Regions from separate parts of the Homo sapiens genome. Here region 1 is linked to region 2. Evidence: fine-mapped expression QTL. A gene starts in region 2. The other region holds a variant in brackets. All regions are shown on one strand. Distances are between the middles of the regions.

Region 1 (10,592 bases), 91 kb before region 2:
GTCATAGCAGGTGCCAGTGCCCCATTCCTTTTCATGGGTGTGTAATATTCCACTGTCCTGATAGAACACATTTTTATCCATTCGTCAGTGACATTTGTTTTTTTCCATACGTGTGTGTGTGTGTATATATATATATATATATATATATATATATATATATATATATATATATATATATATAATTTTTCTTTAAGAGGTGGGGGTGAGACGGGGTCTCACTAGGTTGCCCAGCTGGAGTGCAGAAGCTATTCACAGGTACAGTCATAGCACACTACAGCCTCAAATTCTTGGATTCAGGCAGTCCTCCTGCCTCAGCCTCCTGAGTAGCTGGGACTTCATGTGGACACCATTGCAACTGGCTCATTTTTAAATTATAGAATTTTTTTTTTTTAAATGGAGTTTCACTCTTGTTGCCCAGGTTGGAGTGCAATGACATGATCTCGGGTCACTGCAACCTCCGCCTCCTGGCTTCAAGCGATTCTCCTGCCTCAGCCTCCTGAGTAGCTGCGGTTACAAGCATGCACCACCACGCCCAGCTAATTTCGTATTTTTAGTAGAGACGGGGTTTCTCCATGTTGGTCAGGCTGGTCTCCAACTCCCGACCTCAGGTGATCCACCCACCTCGGCCTCCCAAAGTGCTGAGATTACAGGCGTGAGCCACCATGCCTGGCCTTAAATTATAGAATTTATTATTATTATTATTTTGAGGCAGTCTTGCTCTGTCACCCAGGCTGGAGTACAGTGGTGTGATCTCGGCTCACCACAACCTCCGTCTCCCAGGTTCAAGCAATTCTCCTGTCTCAGCCTCCCAAGGAGCTAGGAATACAGGCACACGCCACCACGACCGGCTAATTTTTGTATTTTTAGTAGAGACGGGGTTTTGCCATGTTGGTCAGGCTGGTCTCCAACTCCTGACCTCGGGTGATCTGCCCACCTCGGCCTCCCAAAGTGTTGGGATTACAGGCATGAGCCACCGCGCCCAGCCAATTATAGAATTTTTAATTTGCTACGCTTCCAAGCCTTGCCAAGATGATAACTTTGTGTGTAACTTTGTCAGAATGTATAGGCTTAGTTTGGCTGTTCTTTTCACATTGTGCTGAAGGCATCAACTTTTGGAGAATGTTTAGTGAGTCCTTAATGCTGTGGAGAGGTTCTTGGAAACTGCGTTTTTAAGCAAAACAAAGTACATCAGGTTCTTGAATAATGTTGTTTTGTTATGATGTTGATTAGGAAAAAAATGGATTTGTTAAACATCATGTCACTTAAACTTGCTGTTTCCAAGAACTGCCAACAGTGTTAAGTGAACTGCATGCTCCTCGCTTGCTCTCGCAGTAGGTGGGGCCTCCATGCTCCTGCCTGCAAGTTCTTCCTGCGCTGGAAATGGGTGGAGGCATCTCCCTGGGTCCCCTCCTTAGGCATCAGAACCTACTTGGTTTCTTCAGACAAATTAAAATGTCATCGATGCCCTGGAAGGATATACTTCAGTGGTATTTCTTGGCATATTTAATTATGGAAAAAATCTTACCTTACTTATAGTAGACCTTTCTAAGTTGCAAATATTTTACTGTGAGCATGATTGATTTATAATTACGAAAAAGCAACTTAGTCTGCATAATTTGTTGATAGCACTGGTCATGTTGAGTATATTTGGAGCCTCGAAGGCATGGAATATTGAGCAGAGTGCGGAAAATAAAGCGGTTTTTGACACCGTGCTTCATTTTGCAGGTACTAACTGACTTGTCCATTTGCTAAGCTTCATCCCACCGGGCAATTTTCCTGCACAGCAGCTGTTACAGTCCCATTCTCACCTGGCCCCTGGGCCAGTTCGGAAGCCTCTGAGCAGGTTTGTAGCTTTCTCCTCCCTTCCTGCAGAGTGCCCTTAATTTAGCTTCATCAGCCACTTGTCATCATTCCTTTTCTTGTCCAAGTTTATAGTCAAGAGCAATGGCTGGGAACTAGAGCTACCCCTGGACCAGCGGGTGGGGTCTTCATCAGCTGGGTCCCAGCATGGCTTCTGACCTACCGCTGGGCACCCCTGCGAGAGCTGCAGACCCTCCCCTAGAAGACAGCAGTGGTGGCCTTGCGCAGCCTCAGACACACCTGGCCTGGTATCCCCGTGCGTCCTCCCTACCCCAGAGCCCTGCACCCCCGTCTGTGTTCAGCCCAGGCTGGGTTATCCCATTTCACTTTGGTCATTCCTTCATTTGCTGATATTTTTTTTAAGCTTTAGAAAATACTTTTAAGGGCGGGTGCATTGGCTCACACCTGTAATCGCGGCACGTTGGGAAGCTGACGCAGGCAGATTGCTTAAGCTCAGGAGTTCAAGTCCAGCCTGGGCAACATGGTGAAACCCTGTCTCTACCGAAAATACAAAAAAATTAGCCGGGCATGGTGGTGCACACCTGTGCTCCTAGCTACTCAGGAGGCTGAGGTGGGAAGATTGCTTGAGCCCGGGAGGCGGAAGTTGCAGGCAGCTGAGATTGTACACTGCATTCCAGCTTCAGTAAGAGAGGAAGACCCCACCTCAAAAAGAAGAAAAAAAACTTGTATTTTTTTTCAAATATGTATGAAAGGAAAGAAAGTCTAACGTATCCGCCATAGCCAGTCTTATTTCCTTACCTGAATATTTTGAAGCAAATCCCACATAGTGCACGTTTATGCAGAGATACTTAAGTGTATGTCTCTGAAAGATGAGGAGTCTTTTAAAAAACTGAATCACAGTTCCATGACCCATGATAAATGGCCATTCCTTGATGGCACCAAATACAGTCACGGGTTTTCCCAGTTGTCTTGAAAATGCCTTTTTTTTTTTTGAGATGGAGTCTCGCTCTGTCGCCCAGGCTGGAGTGCAGTGGCGCGACCTCGGCTCACTGCAAGCTCCACCTCCCAGGTTCACTCCATTCTCCTGCCTCAGCCCCCCATGTAGCTGGGACTACAGGCACCCGCCACCACGCCCGGCTAACTTTTTTGTATTTTTAGTAGAGACGGGGTTTCACCGTGTTGGCCAGTATGGTCTCTATCTCCTGACCTCATGATACACCCATCTCGGCCTCACAAAGTGCTGGAATGACAGGCATGAGCCACCGCACCCGGCCTAATTTTTGTATTTTTAGTAGAGATGAGGTTTCACCATGTTGGCCAGGCTGGTCTTGAACTCCTGACCTCATGATCCACCCATCTCTGCCTCCCAAAGTGCTGGGATTACAGGCGTGAGCCACCGCGCCCAGCCAAAAATGCCTTTTTATTGTTGCTGTGTTTGAATCGGTATTTGTATACACATAATTAGCCGTTAATTTCAACATACCTAAGCATTTTCGCTTATGTAATTTTCAAGTTCTTGAACATGAACTCCCAGCTAGATGAAAGGTGCCACTGAGCAGAGACCAGCGTGGTGCTTCTAACTTTCCGACAGTACACAGCACGCTGCACTCATTCTGATGAGTTTGAGAATATATCTGCTCCATCGCGTCGTTTCCCTGGTGCGCCTCAAGGTCTTGTGGCCTACAGCAGCATTTCGTACTGTGTCTGAGCCTCCGGGGCTGCTGGGGCTGCATGACCCAGAGGGACATCTGGTCAGAGGCCAACTTAGCCTCTCGGCCACCTTGGCTAGGGCCTTTCATGGGCCTGGATGATGGGACCACTCCATGCAGCTCCTTCACCCTGAGGGAGGGGCAGCTCATCCCCGGGAGGCAGGAGTCCCAGCAGAGGGCACAGCAGAAGCAGCTGGCACCTTTGCAAGCCCTGAGGGATGCGGAACAGTCATGCCTGTGCCATTTGCCAGGCAAGGCACATGGCTGATGTGGAGTCTGTGGAAGAGGCCGCACAGTTGCAGGGTGGAGGGTGAAGACACAAGGAGGCCCCCAGCCCAGTCCGCCACAGCAGCGTGGGGCTGGAGCAAGCCCCTCTTGAGGGAGTCTGTTAAATCCGGCCCCAGTGGAGCTCAGACACAGCTGCAGCGCGGATGAGCCTCAAGGACAGCATGCCACATGAGGGGGGCCAGGCACAGAGGGTCACGTGCGTGGCTCCACCTCTGGAAATGTCTAGAACAGGCAGAGCCATTGAGACAGAATGCAGGTGCGTGTGCCAAGGCCTGGGCTTTGGAGGAAACGGGGTGTGATGGCTTAGCGGGCACGTGGCTTCTTTTGGGGGTGACGAAGGTGCCCAGGAATTGGGTGGTTGTGTTGGTTACACAACAGTGTGGATGTGCGAAAGGCCACCTCAGTGTGCACTGGAAAATGGCTACGGTGGTAAATTTATCTGAATTTTAACAAGAAGAAAACAACCTGGCCCTGGATCCCTCCTCCCTTGCACACTTATCATCCCAGCTCCGCAAACACAGCCCGGTGTGGAGGCACCACGCACTCCGCTTTGAGGTGTGTGTTTTTGGCTGACAGACTTCCCGATGAGATCTGGGATTCCATCGTCTGCTGAGCCGGGTCCACAGGGCCAGATTAGACCCCATCTTTAATCTCCGCCACGCCGCCGTGGGGGCCTGAGTCAACCCGCACCATCCGAGGCTCCCACCAATTCTGGGCTGGTCTCTGAAGTTGGGGCCAGCAGCAGGCCTGCCTTTCGGATAGCAAATAATAGAAAGAAATCCATAATTATGTCATATAAAAGATGCGGCCAGAACACTGCACGTGGCACGGCCTGTGATCCAAAATGCGTGCAGGCATCGTCGTTAACTTTTCTTCAGTCCTCTGAGGAAGTAGAATACCATTTCGATTTGTTTTAAACTGTGAGCTCGTCTCTCTTCAGGAAGGAAATTGATCAAAGAAGCAAACACTCCTGGATATTTTGTCTGCTTGATTTTCAGCAATTTACTCCTAATTAATTATTCTGACTAGGAAAAAAATGGTACCTCTCCAGGATGCCAGTGTTTAGAATTGACATTTCAAATAGCTGGTTGGACAAATTGGAGAAATTTTCTGATTTCTGTCATTTGTTAAATTTGCTTTTAAGTATCCCTCAGGGAGCTGTATTCATTCCAAGTGCGGGGAATTAAAGTTGAATCTCCATGCAATTGAATTAGCCTGAGCCACAGGGATGGGCTGCAGAAGCCTGCTGAAGCTTACAGGGAGATTTTACTTAAAGCTAAAGCTTATTTCACGGAGTCTGTTCTGACGGTTTTCTAACGCCACCGTGATGTACAGTTTACTGTTTTATTAACATTGGAACAGTACTTCTTTTCACAATGTACAGTGATTGTAATTTAAGATAAATGTGGGAGTATTCTTATACCTAAGGAAATGCTGAGTCGAAATGCTGGATTTCTAAATATATCACTGGGGAGAGGACAGTTTTTTCCCTTTATAATGACAGTGTTGCCAACATGACCTTATAGCTATGTAGGCTGGGGATATTTTGATATGCAGTAGGAAAATGTCACAGAAGAGATAACATCAATAGAGGCTAAATTTTCCCTTCATGATATTTATTTTTAACATCTATTCTACTCTGTTAAAAAATAAGGACCCTCATGTGTTCATGTGGAAAACATAGTGACTAGGGAGAGAGGGATGTGCTCATTGCGATGGATGAAGTTCTTAAAACAAATACATGCAAACGCAGTGGTTCTTGGAGGAATCCAAGCCCTGTAGAAGCTTATTTTTCCTTCATGTAAATTTCCAGGGCTGTGTGGGCTTAGCTGCTCTGCTCCATGCAGCTATTCAGGGATTCAGGCTGCAGGGCATCTTCAACCCAAAGGGGAAAGACC[G/A]TGGAGGAGGAGGCTGTGAGGTTTCTGTGTGCTGGCCCGCCGCTGACCTGCCTATCACGTAAACCCACCAAAGCAGGGTGCCTTAACCTAGGGGTAGAAAATATTTGGGGGGAGAAAAGCAATAAAAAATATTCTAAAATTTTAAAGTACAGTATAATAACTATTTACATAGTGTTTGTTTTAGGTATTATAAGTAATCTAGAGCTGATACAAGGTAGATAGGAGGATGTGTTCAGGTTCTAGGCAAACACCAAGAGATGACTCTAGCTGGCAGACACATGCTCTGTTGCTCCAGAAAAAGAAGCAACCAGGCTGGGGCAGACAGCCCAGACTGCCATGGTTGCGGAGCAAAGGGAAAATCAGAACCTACCTGGAGACCATTCACCATATGGTTCACATCCATCAGCCTAGCACTTGCCAGGCATGATTCTAAGCCCTGGGGTAGACCAGGGGGGCAGAAACAGAGACATTTCTCTTTGGGGTGTGCCTAGTGCAGGGAGTACTGGAGATGTAGTGTGCCAGGTGGCAAGCGCTGTTGAGGCGAGCACAGCGGCGGGGGGGTGCTGGGGCTGCTGGGGGCATGCACCGTTTTTAACAAGCCAGTCAGCAGTCTCTAAGGAGGTGACATTGAACAAAGACCTGAAGGAGGTGAGTGGGTGAGCAAACCGCAGGGATTTGAGGAAAGAGTAGACAGGAAGTGCAAAGGCCCTGGGGCAGGAGCGCATTGGGTGCCTTGTGGCCGGACAGCCTCGGAACCCGTGGGAACCTGGCTGTCTCCAGGTGCAGATGAGATGCCACTGGGGAACTTGAGAGTGGAGGGATGACCCAGTCGCCCTTCCTGGTATCTCTGGCTGCTGTGTGGACACAGGGGGCCCTGGTAGGCACTGTGAAGTGATCCAGCTGGGAGAAGATGATGGCTGTGGCCTGCACACAAATGGTGGAGGTGAAGTGGACAGATTTAGACACAATTCGAATTCGGGTTTTTTTTTTTTGAGACGGAGCCTCACTCTGTTGCCCAGGCTGGTGTGCAGTGGTGTGATCTCGGCTCACTGCAACCTCCACCTCCCCGTCAATCCTACGGGGTCTTGGTGACCCACTCACTGGGGTTTGAAGGAGGCAGAGCAGAGAGAGGGGACATAGGACGGACGTGGCGCCAGCAGACATGGAGGCCTCTTTCCAGAAGGATGTAATTCTCCTCCGAATGGGAAAACAGAGAGCGTGTTTTGGATTTTTTTTTTTTTTTGACACGGAGTTTCGCTCTTGTTGCCCAGACTGGAGTGCAGTGGTGCAATCTCGGCTCACTGCAACCACTGCCTCCCAGGTTCAAGCAATTCTCCTGCCTCAGCCTCCCAAGTAGCTGGGATTACAGGCATGCGCCACCACGCCCGGCTAATTTTGTATTTGTAGTAGAGATGGTGTTTCTCCATGTTGGTCAGGCTGGTCTCGAACTCCCGACCTCAGGTGATCTGCCCGCCTCGGCTTCCCAAAATGCTGGGATTACAGGCGTGAGCCACCGCGCCCGGCCTGTGTTTTGGATCTGTAGACCCCATGACGCTGACTCCTCCGTGTGCTGCAGGAGTCTGAACAGAGGCCACAGTTAACACAAGGCTGGGAAGCAGAGGCCTCGCCAAGTGCAGGAGTAATTAAAGGACACATCTTTCGAGTAGACTTCATACATGTCCCACTTTTGTGCCTTACAGCTTTTGTTGTTTGTAAATGACATCTTTGTAAAAAATAACTTTTCTAATCGTTGCTCACACATAGGAATGCATTGTGGTTCAGCAAGCTGGCTGGATTCTTTCTGGCTCTAACAGTGTGCCTGCCAAGGCGTCTCATCTTCACAGAGGCTGTCACGTCGTCTGCATGTGTCTTTGTGTCCATTTGCCTTTTAAATCATGAGAGGGCAGGGCACAGTGGCTCATGCCTGTAATCCCAGCACTTTGGGAGGCTGAGAGATCCAGATCACTTGAGGTCAGGATTTCAAGACCAGCTTGGCCAACACGGTGAAACCCCATCTCTGCGAAAAATACAAAAATCAGCCAGGTGTGATGGTGGGTGCCTGTAATCCCAGCTATTCTGGAGGCCGAGGCAGGAGGATCGCTTGAACCCGGAAGGCAGAGGTTGCAGTGAGCCGAGATTGCGCCCCTGTACTCTAGCCTGGGGACAGACTGAGAACCTTGTCTCGGGGAAAAACAAACAAAAAAATCGTGAGAGGGTCTTGATTTCCAGACAGGTGAAGAGATGTAGATCATATAAGGGTTGTCTGCACATCAGGCACCTCATTTAGAGAGATGGCTTTGAGCACCCCGGGTGAGCGTGTGAAATTTCTCACTTAGGTGATGGCCTGGACCCCATAGGTAGTGTAAATTCAAAACGCAAACCTGGGAGTGTCGGACCTGGAGCTGCAGGTTTTAGGGGGTTGGGGGCATTCACAGGCCCTCCTGCTTTTCTTCTTTCAGCTCTGACTGCTCTTGGGCAGGCTTCGTCTTCATCATCACAAAAGACGTTGAACCCTTGGAATCCAACAGACTTTGTTTCAGATTCCAGCACGCGTTTTTCTGCTGTGGCCTGAGTGGTTACTTTGGCTTCCCCCGTCTCATGTATGAAACGAGCCGGTGATAATCCTGGTCACAGGATTTTGCGTTCTGGTTAAGAAACCACAGCGACGCCACCACATAACGGACGCTCAGCGCACATCTCTTTTAGATGCTGGCCTGTCAGTGGGATGGCAGAAACTATTCAGATGTGGTGACGATTCTGCTTTGGGGACTGCTTCCCAAGCGGGTGCATCCTGCCGGATTTTAACACTGCTGGGCATTGTGAGTGGTGGCAAGATGAGGAGGCCAACCCTGTAGTCACTGGGCTCCAGGTCTGCCTGTGAGCTGCGGAGGGCAGGGTAGAGTGGCCTCAGCGTGAGCAGCAGGATGGGAGCCTCGAGGGAGAGCTGGGTTTGGAGAAAGTGGCCTCTGTTGTCGCGTTTCTGTCATTGAGCAGATTGAGCAAAAGCAGAGGCAGGAAAACGCATGGGGAGGCTGGTGGTGCGAGCCCACGGTAGCCATGAGTCCTGCAAGGAGGTGTCTGGGTTTGGGCCCTGAAAACTTTGGAGAAGAGGTGGGTCTGCTGTACAATTGTCTTGTGCCATTTAAGGTAATTCTGCCCTGTTGGGGCAGGTGTAGCTCCAGTTTTCAGAGGAGGAAACGGGGTTGGGGAGTGGCAGGCAGAGGAAGCAGCAGGCCAGAGTCCCAGAGCAGATGGAGAGCAGCCAGCACGCGCTTCCTCCTGGTGGGGCTCAGACAGGGCTTGGCACCAGGGCTGTCGGGCAAGCGGGAGGAAGAGCTGCGGCTCCGGGGTGCGGTGCTGCCGCGCAGAGTGGACCGGTGATCCTACGGCACCGTGGGCTTGTACGCACAGGGAAATGGAGGCACTCCCAGAGGAGCTGAGTGTCAGGCCTGGCACAGGTTGGAGAAGAGCTAGGCATTCTCCTGGTAAAACCGTAGGAAAGATGGCTGCGAAGCAGGAGAGATGCAAACTCTCTCTGGGTAGAAATGTCAGCAGCATTTGGTTTTCCTCAAGTAACGGAACGCAAACGTCTGCTTCCTGTTGAGTCCTGCTGCCTTTGCCGAAGAGAATTCTTTTTGGTGCTGTGGCTTTAGAACACCTGGATAAAGCCCTGGAAGTTGTTCTCCAGCACAGAACACGCCGTCTCGGGGTTCAGACATCTTCCCATACGGGTCGTGGACGCTCTTGTGGGTGTCTGTTTCCTGACCCCGAGGTCGGCAGTGGCTGAGCTGCTGTGTGGGACCCCAGTCCCTCTTGCTGTCCTGCCTCATCTCCTCCTTTCTCACCCTCCTGGGTTAGATCTTGTACAATAGTAAGCTCAGTGTTCGACCTGGCACCTAGAAAGGAGAGCTGTGCGCCCTACAGCCCAGCATGGGGCCCCGCCAAGCATCTGCTGGCACTGGCACTGGCATCTACTGTGAGGCCCCTGGTGGGCAGGGTCATCTCTTGGTCCTCCCAGGTGGCAGATGACGCAACAGCCCGGTGATGAGTGGAACAGGCGTGTGCGTTTCAGCAGATGAGCAGGAGATGTTGATGGATTTTGCTGCCTCGCTGATAAAAATAGACATTTATTCTTTTCAAGACAGGCAGAAAGGCTAAGATGTGTTATAACCCTGTGGGACGGAACTCAGATGGCAGTTTTTCATTTTTGATGTCTTTTTTTTTTTTCTTGATTCCTTTTCTCTTAAAATTAGGCCTCAGAAGCTAATCCTGTAGATCAGGCTGAAGCTGACAGGAGTGAGGCTGAAGCTGACAGGAGTGAGCCTGAGATTTCTGAATGCTCATTTATTTCTCCTTCCATCCTCAAGATTCAGGCTTGAAGCCAGGAGGCCATCCCCCAGGAAAGGGCCCCTCACTCAGGCAGGGAGGCCTGGGGCGGGGGGGGGGGGGTGGGGGGGCCACCCAGCCCCCATCGGTGTCCGTGGCTGCTGCCAGAAACGGAGTCAGAGAAAGTAATGTCAGCCAGACTTCAACTCCAGCTGGGTGTGAGCACCTTATGCCACCGCTGCCCACGCTGCCCTGCATCCGTGCTGCGCTGCGTTGGCACTGGAGAGGCTGGGAGGCTCTGGGAATTGGAATCCCTGGCTGTGCTTGCCGGAAAGGGTGTATGTAAATGAGGCGGTTTTCCTGCCACCTCTGCAGATGATTCAGCCCAGCAAGTGTGAAGAGGGAGGGAACGTCCCTGCCAGAGCTGGGACACAGTGCAGGGGCGTGGTTATAAATGAACGAAACAGCTCTTCTGCTGAGTTTTTTTTTCTTCTATACAGTTCCTCTGTGAGTTCCCTTTAACCATGACGTAAAACCCATTTTGTGGCTT
Region 2 (10,592 bases):
GGTTAGGAGTTTGAGACAAGCCTGGCCAACATGGTGAACCCCGTCTCTACTAAAAAATACAAAAATAGGTTGGGCATGGTGGCACACGCCTGTAATCCCAGCTACTCAGGAGGATGAGGCAGGAGAATCACTTGAACCTGGGAGGCGGAGGTTGCAGTGAGCTGAGACAGCGCCACCGCAATCCAGCCTGGGCAACTGAGTGAGAATCTGTCTTTAAAAAAAAAAAAAAAAAGATAATGAAATGAGAGGAGCCAAACATTTACCCTAAGTGGAAAAAAAAAATTGGGCTTATGATAGGTTTTCTCTTATAGACAGTAAAAAGAAGTGCCAGGAATTTAAAGCAAAGAACAGTAAGATGAGAGAGATCTCCAATATACAAAATGTTTCAAAATTTTTTTTTAGTACAACATGCTTATACAAGAGGTAAGACTTATTTTTGTATTTGATTTGATAATTTGACTTGGAATTTTTCTGTGGGAATAAAAGTGTTAGAATGCTTATTTTTAAATTTCTCAAAATTTGCAGGCAGTAAGCAAGGCCTTAAAGCCATAGAGGGCTCTAAAACTAGTTCCATAAAGCATTTTACTGTAAAAATATGTACAGATCTTTAATAGAAAAGTATATTTCTTTACAGTAGAAAAATATCTGAACAGTCAACTTTTCTTAAGACAAAAATTCAAATGTAACATACTACCTAAACTATAAATTTAGCTAAAACTGAATCGAGCTGTTTATAAGAACTGATTCCAAAATATACATATATGAATTTACATAACCGATATGTAGAAGCTCTTCAAAATCGACTGTAAATTGAAAAGTTAAAATTGGCCTTGCCTCTGCAGTTTGGAGCTGCAATGGCTGCCAGTATCGGCTGTTTTCTTGGTGCCTGAGCTGCAGGGTGGGCCTGTCGAGGAGGGGCTGCTGTCTGGGTCGCTTTCCCTCTGGCTGTCTGTGGCGTAGGTACATGAGGTGCTCAATCTCGGCCTGGAAAGAATACCTCGAAAGAATACCACACACTGGAACTCTGTGAAGAAGTGAAGACGCTAAAAGCGGGCAGTGCTGTGTTTACTTAGAGACAGTGGAGTGGGTCCAGGGCTGTCCTCGCCAGGCTGGTTTTTAAAGCACTTTTGGTTTAGGAGTCAGCTTCATCATGGTCACTTTCATTATCATTGTCATTCTCCTCATCTTCTTCCCTCTTTTCCTCTTTAAGCATTTTCAGGTATTTACTAGCTAAAATCTTCTTTGGTAATATATCTTAAAAACATAAAGCGTACATCAGCAATTGGTTATGGTAGACTATGAACACAGCAATGCACATTTCAAAATGTACTAGTTCCTGCTTTGACCTCTATAAGAGGTTCCAAAACAAGATGAAATTCAGGCTGCATTTCTGGGTAAAATATCAAAGAAACTAGCATTGTCTCCTAACGAACGCTATAGGCCTCTTTCCAGTCCAATGAGTACAAACCATGGTGTCTCTATGAGCTGCTTTTATGAGCAACCCTGCCCGACTACCTGAGATAGCCTAGGCTAGCCCCAGGGTAGACTTAAGCTCTAACTACGGCCATGTAGACCCACCCTGAGTTTTCCCTTCAGTGGCAGGCAGGGTCCCTGTAGAGAGTAAAGGACTGCCCAGCATACGCGGCCAACCAACATCTTGTGAATGTTGTTGGCTTCACTATTGTTCTAGGTGGACCACATGACAAACACATTCAAACAGAGAAGACTAAAAGTATCTTCCTGTGACAACTCATAGTACTTTGCGGCTTGGAAAAAGTAGCAAAAAGTCTAATTTTCCGTGAGAGCAGAAGGGAGGCAAGGGGTGGGGAAAGAGCTATTGATTACTAATCATTTTTTAACCAGAATGTTTCAAAGACTAAGTACCTGCAAGAAACTGAAAAGTTTCTGATTGCTGTGCAGTGTTTGCTAAATCACTGTAAGTCAGTACTTTCTTTTCCTTTCCACTGCCGTGTCTGTAGGAATAGGTGGCTAGGCATTGAACAAAGAGCTCCTAGAACAAAATGAAAAATGCAAATGAAAGGTGTGCTTTGAAAATGTACCACAGAAATTAATTTTTAAAATTACATTGTTGATTCCTTAATTAGGCTTAAAAGTATATTAAGACTTCAGATTCTCTTGGTTTCTCAAATTAAATTACAAGAAATCACTGGGGAGGCCAGGCGTGGTGGCTCACGCTGGTAATACTAACACTTTGGGAGGCTGAGGCAGGCGGCTCACTTGAGGTCAGGAGTTTGAGACCAGACTGGCCAACATAGTGAAACCCCATCTCTATTAAAAATACAAAAATTAGCTGGGCATGGTGGCGGGTGCCTGTAATCCCAGCCAGCGGGAGGCTGAGGCAGGCGAATCGCCTGAACCTGGGAGGTGGAGGTTGGAGATTGCAGCACTCTGGCCTGGGTGATCAAGCAAGACTCCGTCTCAAAAAAAAAAAAAAAAAAAAAAAAAGAAATCACTGGGGAAAAGAAAAACATGAGGTCAGAAAGAAAGCAAAGCCAGTATCAAAATTGGCGGAGAAGCAGGCATTTTCCAGAGGCTTATTTTAGATGTCTAACTTACGAAAAAGATGAATCGTAACTGTTTAATGACCAACCTCTAGAGTAAAAGAAAGAAGCGGCCGGGAGCTGTGGCTCAGGCCTGTAATCCCAGCACTTTGGGAGGCCAAGGACGGCGGACCAAGGATGGTCAGGAGATCGAGACCATCCTGGCTAACACGGTGAAACCCCGTCTCTACTAAAAATAAAATAAAAAAAAAAAACAAAATTAGCCGGGCATGGTGGCGGCTGTAGTCCCAGCTACTCGGGAGGCTGAGGCAGGAGAATGGCGTAAGCCCGGGAGGCGGAGCTTGCAGTGAGCCGAGATCGCGCCACTGCACTCCAGCCTGGGCGACAGAGCGAGACTCCGTCTCAAAAAAAAAGAAAAAAAAATAGAAAGTAGCAAAAAGCCATTCAAAAATTCTATTTGGCTCAGGAATACCTTTTTAGTCTTCTATTTGCATACACTGTTTCTAAGGTGGTTCACCTACAACTATAGTGACCACAGCTTACATTTTGCCAAAACTTTTCTATTCTAGGAACTGACATACAACCCTCAGACCTAATGAAACAACCGGAACTGATCTTCTCCCTCCTGCATCCCAGTTCTTATAGCAGGGCCAAGTCTTCATTTTTACAGAGGCTGAACTGAGCCTCTTTCTCAAGGTTTTGACTTTAATGCATCTAGTTCAGTTAATAAGGGATGAGAAAGACGGGCGTGATGGTTCACGCCTGTAATCCCAGCACTTTGGGAGGCTGAGGCAGACGGATCACCTGAGGTCAGGAGTTCAAGACCAACTTGGGCAACATGGTGAAACCCTGTCTCTACCAAAAAATACAAAAATTAGCCGAGTGTGATGGCAGGCACCTGTAATCCCAGCTACTCAGGAGGCTGAGGCAGGAGAATCATCTGAACCCGCGAGGCAGAGGTTGCAGTGAGCAAGACAGTGCCACCGCACTCCAGCCTGGGAAACTCCATCTCAAAAAATAAAATAACGGGTCAGAAGTGCCTGCATAAATCCTCATTCCTTAATACCAATAGAATGAAATTGTATAGGAAAATACAAATGTCCCCAGATGAAATGCTGAATATGCAATTATTTCCCTGGGCTCTAGGAAAACATGGCTCTGACATAAAGCGGGCAAGAAACCTGTAATTTCCCACTTCCCTTAGTTCTAGTCCAACACTGCAGGGACATCATATACTTAACTACAAGTAGGGACTGGAAAATAGAATCCAAGACAAGCTAAAGCATTTAACTGTGTAGCTGAAACATGGCCCAGTGTCAGAACAGGAAAACATCTGGCCTAACACTATCGAGACGCAATTTTTTTAAAAAAAGACAAAATTATCTATTTTGCACCCAGGAGGATGCTAAGCAGGCTGTAAAACTTAAGTTCCCCGGACTTCCTTAAATTCTGGTTGGGGAATGTGCTGCCTCTTAGACGAGGGGCCCCAGCTGTGGCGGGCGGGAGGGCTCGAAAGCCTCGGACCGCTGGAGCTGGCACCGCACGCGCGGGAAAAGAGCCTCGAGTCGCGGGTGAAGCGCCCGGCTGCCCCTCCCACGGGACACTGGAGGAGTTAGGGCCCTCAAAGCACGAAGCAGTCCAGTGACAAGAAAAAGGCAGGCCGGGAGTAGGGAGTCGCGGGTGAAAGAGCCCCCAAAGAACCCAAATGAGAAGAGCGCCACTAGGCGCCGACGCCCACGGGTAGGGCCGGAAACTGAGCGCCGCACGCGAGGGAGGACGTGAGCGCACAGGTGGGAGGGACGAAAGGCGCGCAGAGGAACGCGGGAGCTTACGGGTTTGCCGAATGGAAGCGCGAGAGAAACGGCGGGAGGACAGTGGGGTGGGCGGGGCGAAGGTGCGCACGGAAGGAAGGGGCGGGCGGAGCGAAGGAAGGCGACAAAGGGCGGGAGAGGCGCGCGGTAGGCGAGGCGAAGAAACTGGAGAACGTGAGGGAGCGGCGAGGGGTGGGCGGGGCGAAGACGCGCGAGAAAGTGTGGGGGCGCGCGGGCACCGAAGCGCGCGCCGGCGTGGGACGGGGACAGCGGGGCGCGCGCGAGCCCGGCAAGAGCAGCCGGCGGCGCGCGGGCCTAAGGGGACTGGGCAGTGCCCAGAGCCCGGCGGGGCGGGGCGCGAGGGGTAAGGGCGGCCCACACCCCCGCCCTGCCCCCTCACCGTGGCCTTGGCCGTGAGCACCAACGCCTCCTGGTTGATGCTGGACACCTCGGGGGAGCTCTTCATGATGACCCGGATGCGGGATAGAGGCAGCGAGATGAGCCGCTGCTCCCCGCCCTTGTCTTTACCCACGACCACGTCCGCCATCTTCCCGCCCGTCGCGCGGGTGCCCGCAGCCGGCGGGCCCGACCGCGAAGTGGCTGCCCTGCCCGGCCAGCTGGTGGGTACGGGGAGCCGCGCCCGCTGCCCCGTGGGAGTTGTAGTGTGGGGAGGCGAGGCCGCGAGGCCGGGAGCGGCCCGTCCGGGAAACTACGAGCTCCGTGAGGCCTCGCGCCCCCGATCTGCGCATGCGCCGACGCTCGGACACCGCCCCCGAGTGCGAGGCCCGGCGCGGAACCGGCAGCCGAGAGCCTGGCGGGGGCGGGGCGCACCGCGCCGCTCCCGGGAGTCTCCGGGCTGCGGTCGCGGAATACGACTTTGATCCGCGGGTGAGGGCTCTGTGAATGGGCAAGCAAAGCCCTCTGACTCCGGGCCTCGTGGCTGGGTGCTGTGTGTTAAGCGCCTGCGCTGTACTAGGACCGGGCGTGCCGCCGTCGGCAAAAAGTGACGCTTTCTTGAAGCACAAAGTCCAGGGGGGACGACCAAGCGGACAGCGGATGCGTCCTGCGCCGGTAGCCAGGCGACCGGTGGAAGAGCAGAGTCCAGCGCGGGCGATGCGGCGGGGCCAGGCTTGCTGCGCCGCGGGGTGATTGGGAGAAGAGCCTTCCTGCGGGGTGGAGGACGAAGAGCTGCCCTGAGGAGGTCCCGGAGTCTGGTGGGAACGGCCTCTTCGGGACTGCTCCGAGAGACGGTGTGCAGAGCCTGGCGTGCTCGCCGAGGTCTGACAGGCAGCCCGGGGCTAGGTCCTGTTGGATTTTTTTTTCTAAGGAAAATGGGAAGTGGTGGTAGGGTTTGAGCAGTGGAGTCCCGGGCAGTTTTAAAAGGATCCCTGCAGCTGCCGGCTGGGAGGGCGTGGGTGCGCGTAAGGCCGGAATCACAGAGACCAGGTAGAAGATGATTACGAGAACCCAGGAACGTGGCCCTCAGGAGGCCGGCAGTACCAAGGGGACAGCAGCTGGGAGGAGAGAGGCAGGAGATGGTCAGGGGCCAGACCAGGGAAGGCCGCGGAGACCGCAGAATTCGCTCTGAATGAGTGGGGAGGCCCTTGGAAGAGTAAGGGGTCCAACTTAACTTTTTTTTTTTTTTTTTTTTTTGACACAGAGTCTCGCTCTGTCGCCAGGCTGGAGTGCAGTGCGATCTCGGCTCACTGCAACCTCCAACACCCCGATTCAAGCAATTCTCCTGCCTCAGCCTCCTGAGTAGCTGGGATTATAGGCACGCGCCACCCAGCTAATTTTTTGTATTTTTAGTAGAGACGGGTTTTCACCATGTTGGCCAGGATGGTCTCGATCTCCTGACCTCGTGATCCGCCCGCCTCGGCCTACCAGAGTGCTGCGATTACAGGCGTAAGCCACCGCGCCTGGCCACCAACTTAACTTCTGCCAGGATCATGGGAAGTGGTAGGGTTTGGGGTCTGATTTCAAGAGGGAGCTGCTGTGGAGTATCAGCACAGCTTACTGAGATATCAGAAAGGCCTTGGTAAAGAGCCCTTTACTGAGACAGGGAGCACATTTTGGCAGAGGTTTGAATTGGAGCGTGTTAAGTGTAGTGTCTTCTTCACCACTGTGACGTGAGGTCCTGGCGCAAATAATTGAGCACAGAAATACATGTCAGGCATTGCTAGGCACAAGGGTACAGCCAGTGAGCAGGGCTGCCATGGTCCCTGCCCTCTTAGAGCTGACCTTCAGGTCTGAGGGAGACTGAAAAATAAGTAAGAATACCTCCAGCCGGGCGCTTTGGCTCACGCCTGTAATCCCAGCACTTTGGGAGGCCAAGGTGGGTGGATCACCTGAGGTCAAGAGTTCGAGACCAGCCCAACCAATATAGTCAAACCCCATCTCTACTGAAATTATTAAAATTAGCTGGGCGTGGTGGTGGGCACCTGTAATGCCAGCTACTCGGGAGGCTGAGGCAGGAGAATCGCTGGAACCCAGGAGGCAGAGGTTACAGTGATCCGGGATCGCGCCACTGCACTCCAGCAGCCTGGGCGACAGAGGGAGACTCCATCTCAAAAAAAAAAAAAAAAAAAAAATACACCTCCAATGCTGAAAGCTACGAAGGAAACAAAACCATGTGCGAGTGATAGGGCAGCCCCTCTGGGAAGTGACATTTGTGCCCAGATCTGAAGAAAGAAAAGGAGCCACTCATACAGAAAGACTGAGACAAGATGAGCTTTCGGGACAAGTCAGGCTCTAGGGAGAACACCTGACGAGGAAAATGCCTGGGCAGTTTGAGGAACTGAAAAGCCAGTGTGTCTGGAGCTTAGTGAGGGAGGCAGAGAGCACGGGAGGTGTGGTTACCAAGGTAGGTGGGACCGGCTCTGGCCCTGGGTAAAAAGTTTGACTTTCATTCCAAGAGTAATGGAAAATAATGAAGAATTTTGAACTCGAGGTGGTGCATGCCTGTAATCCCAGCACTTTGGGAGGCTGAAGCAGGCAGATCGCTTGAGCCCAGGAGTTTGAGATTAGCCCGGGCAGCATAACAGGGCAGCATCTCTACAAAAATTTTATTTTTGGCCGGGCGCGGTGGCTCACACCTGTAATCCCAGCACTTTGGGAGGCCGAGGGGGGGCAGATCTCCTGAGGTCAGGAGTTCGAGACCAGCCTGACCAACATGGCGAAACCCCGTCTCTACTAAAAATACAAAAAATTAGCCGGGCATGGTGGCACGCGCCTGTAATCCCAGCTACTTAGGAGGCTGAGGCAGGAGAATCGCTTGAACCCGGGAGGCGGAGGTTGCAGTGAGCCAAGATCACGCCACTTGCACTCCAGCCTGGGCAACAAGAGAGAAACTCCATCTCAAAAACAAACAAATCCAGACCAGCCTGGCTAACATGGCAAAACCCCCTCTCTACTAAAAATAGAAAAATTGGCTGGGCATGGTGGTAAGCACCTGTAATCTCAGCTGCATTGGCGGCTGAGGCAGGAGAATCACTTGAACTCAGAAGGTGGAGGTTGCAGTGAGCACAGATCACACCACTGCACTCCAGCCTGGGCAACAGAGCAAGACTCTCAAAAAAAAAAAGTTTTGAAGGGAGCAGATCCACTTTAAAAGCTCACACTGGTTCTTGAGTGATGACCAAATGGCACTGTGCCTTATGCAGAGCCGACTCCTGGCAGTTTGCACAGGCTGGAGGTGGAGCTGCAGACTCCCTCTCCCTCTCGGCCTTGCCTCTGTAAATGGGAAAGCCGTTGACATTCACAAAAGAGGGGCAGGGAACTGCTACACAAGAGCAGCTACACAAGAGGGTCCTTTGGTCCACACAGGAAACAAGCCATAGTGATGACATATTTTGAAGCTGTTAGATGTTTTGTTTCCCTAGCTGGCTATTATTTTTGTATGGCTTGTCTTTCTCTTTTGAGTATGTGTGAGAACAGGATGGGTTAACATTAGGGAAGAGCACAGAAGAGGAAGGAAGGAAAGAAGGAAGGGAGGGAGGGAAAGGAGAGAGAATAGGGATGAGAAGCTCAGCTTGTAGAATTGGCAGGTGATGTTTGCAGTCATTAATCATTTGAGAAGTAGAGAGAGAAGCCAAGCAGGAAATCTTCATACTGGAAAAGAAGTGCTCACCATTAAAAAAAAAAAAAAAAAAAATCCAGTGTGGTTCACAGCTGTAATCCCATCACTTGGAGGCTGAGGCAGGAGAAATACGTGAAGCCAGGAGTTTGAGACCAGCCTGGGCAATATAACAAGACCCACATCTCTACAAAGAGAAAAAAAATGTAAAAAAAAGAAGCTTTAAACCTAAGACGGCAGAATTCAAGACTGTTGTCCTTGAGAACTTCCTGGCTCTGGAAAAAGCTCAGTGAGTTAGTCTCATCCTGTCGTTAGCTCTGTTTTTTAGGGGCTCACTTTGTCTTCACGACAGTACCTTGCACCATTCTCATGGGTATCCCAGGGTGGTGCAAGGCAGTTTTCTGCACTTCCCAGAATGCCCTGTCAGCTGGCTTCTGGGTAGGTTCTGCAAATTGGAGGCCCCTGTGAAAGATCGCTGTGGGGTGGGAGGAAGAAGCTTTATCTGCCTGCTGGCTGCAGGGTAGAGGACTGCAGTGGGGTTATAGGGATCACCACCTGCACATGTGGAGCTTTGAGCGGCTTCACTCTAAGTTTCTGCTCAACAGTGGCAGCCCTGGAGTCCTTCGGGGGCGAGTGTGGGCTCCTGGGCTCCAGGCCAGGGGCAGTCCCAGCTTCCTGATCTCGAGGTAGCGTCTCCTCCCTTTTGCTCCATAGCACCTCGCCCTTCTCAGTGACGTGCCTCCTTCTCAGTCATGCGCCTCCAGCTCTAACAATGTCCTTGAAAACAATTCTTGACCATGCGCCGTGGCTCACGCCTGTAATCCCAACACTTTGGGAGTCTGAGGCAGGCGGATCACTTGAGGTCAGGAGTTTGAGACCAGCCTGGCCAACATGTAATCCCAGCTACTCCCTCCACTTGATTTGTGTTCCTTGAAGAAATTTGCATAATCCCTGTATCTGGTTGGCAGATAGCAGAGATGTAGCCTCAGTCTTTCCTTTAAAAATTTTGCTTTAGGCAGGGCGCGGTGGCTCACACCTATAATCCCAGCACGTTGGGAGGCCAAGGTGGGCAGATCATGAGAGCAGGAATTTGAGATCGGCCTAGCCAATATGGTGAAACCCCGTCTCTACTAAAAATATAAAAATTAGCTGGGCGTGGTGGCACAAGCCTGTAATCCCAGCTATTTGGGAGGCTGAGGCAGGAGAATCGCTTGAATCCAGGAGGCAGAGGTTGAGATGAGCCGAGATCACGCTATTGCACTCCAGCCTGGGCAACAGAGGGATACTCCATCTCAAAAAAAATTTTTTGCTTTAGGGCCAATCGTGGTGACACACGCTTGTAATTCTGGCACTTTGAGAGGCCGAGGCAGGTGGATAATTTGAGGTCAGGGGTTCGAGAGCAGACTGGCCATGATGGTGAAATCCCATCTCTACTAAAAATACAAAAAAAGCCAGGTATGGTGGCATACGCCTGTAATCCCAGCTACTCGGGAGGCTGAAGCAGGAGAATCACTTGAACCCGGGAGGTTTAGGTGGCATTGAGCCGAGATTGCACCACTGCACTCCAGCCTGGGTGACAGAGCGAGACTCCATCTCAAAAAAAAAAAAAAGGGCCGGACGCGGTGGCTCACGCCTTTAATCCCAGCACTTTGGAAGGCCGAGGCGGGTGGATCACCTGAGGTCAGGAGTTCAAGACCAGCCTGGTCAACATGGTGAAACCCCGTCTCTACTAAAAACATTAAAAAATTAGCCGGGCATGGTAGTGGGCGCCTGTAATACCAGCTACTGAGGAGGCTGAGGCAGGAGAATTGCTTGAACCCAGGAGACAGAGGTTGCAGTGACCTGAGATTGTGCCACTACACTCCAGCCTGGGCAACAAAGCAAGACTCTGTCTTAAACAAACAAAAAGCCCAGTGTGGTGGTGTATATTTGTGGTCCTAGCTACTTTGAAGGCTGAGGTGGGAGGATTGCTTGAGTACAACATGTAGAGGCTGCAGTGAGCTGTGATTGTGCCACTGCACCCCAGTGTGGGTGACAGAGCAAGACCCTGTCTCAAAATAATAAAATTAACATTCATTAACAATAATGTTAATATATATGTTAATGTATATGTTAATCGTAATGTTTATATTTTACCATGATAAAAACATTTTAAAATCATATATCAACTCTTGCCGTTCTCCT

The links. PIP is the estimated chance that this variant, and not a neighbour inherited with it, causes the effect.
Region 1: its variant is fine-mapped to the expression of CHRAC1 in whole blood (TOPMed, PIP 0.97).

The regions. Positions count from the first base shown.
Region 1 is chr8:140,597,048-140,607,639 of GRCh38, reverse strand. The region is part of intron 1 of AGO2 (argonaute RISC catalytic component 2); the gene reads left to right. Among named protein-coding and RNA genes, the nearest start is that of ERICD, 32 kb to the left of the region's middle. RefSeq lists enhancers at 8,318-8,407, 8,418-8,487, 9,868-9,917, 9,647-10,149, 10,498-10,592. The variant G/A (reference allele first, on the strand shown) is at 5,717.
Region 2 is chr8:140,505,788-140,516,379 of GRCh38, reverse strand. It overlaps CHRAC1 (chromatin accessibility complex subunit 1), which reads right to left and starts at 5,058. Exons shown (of 3, transcript NM_017444.6): 1 at 4,734-5,058; 2 at 1,885-2,011; 3 at 1-1,254. The coding sequence starts at 4,880. The coding sequence ends at 1,133. RefSeq lists enhancers at 3,996-4,305, 5,366-5,575, 5,586-5,665 and silencers at 4,346-5,355, 7,533-7,713.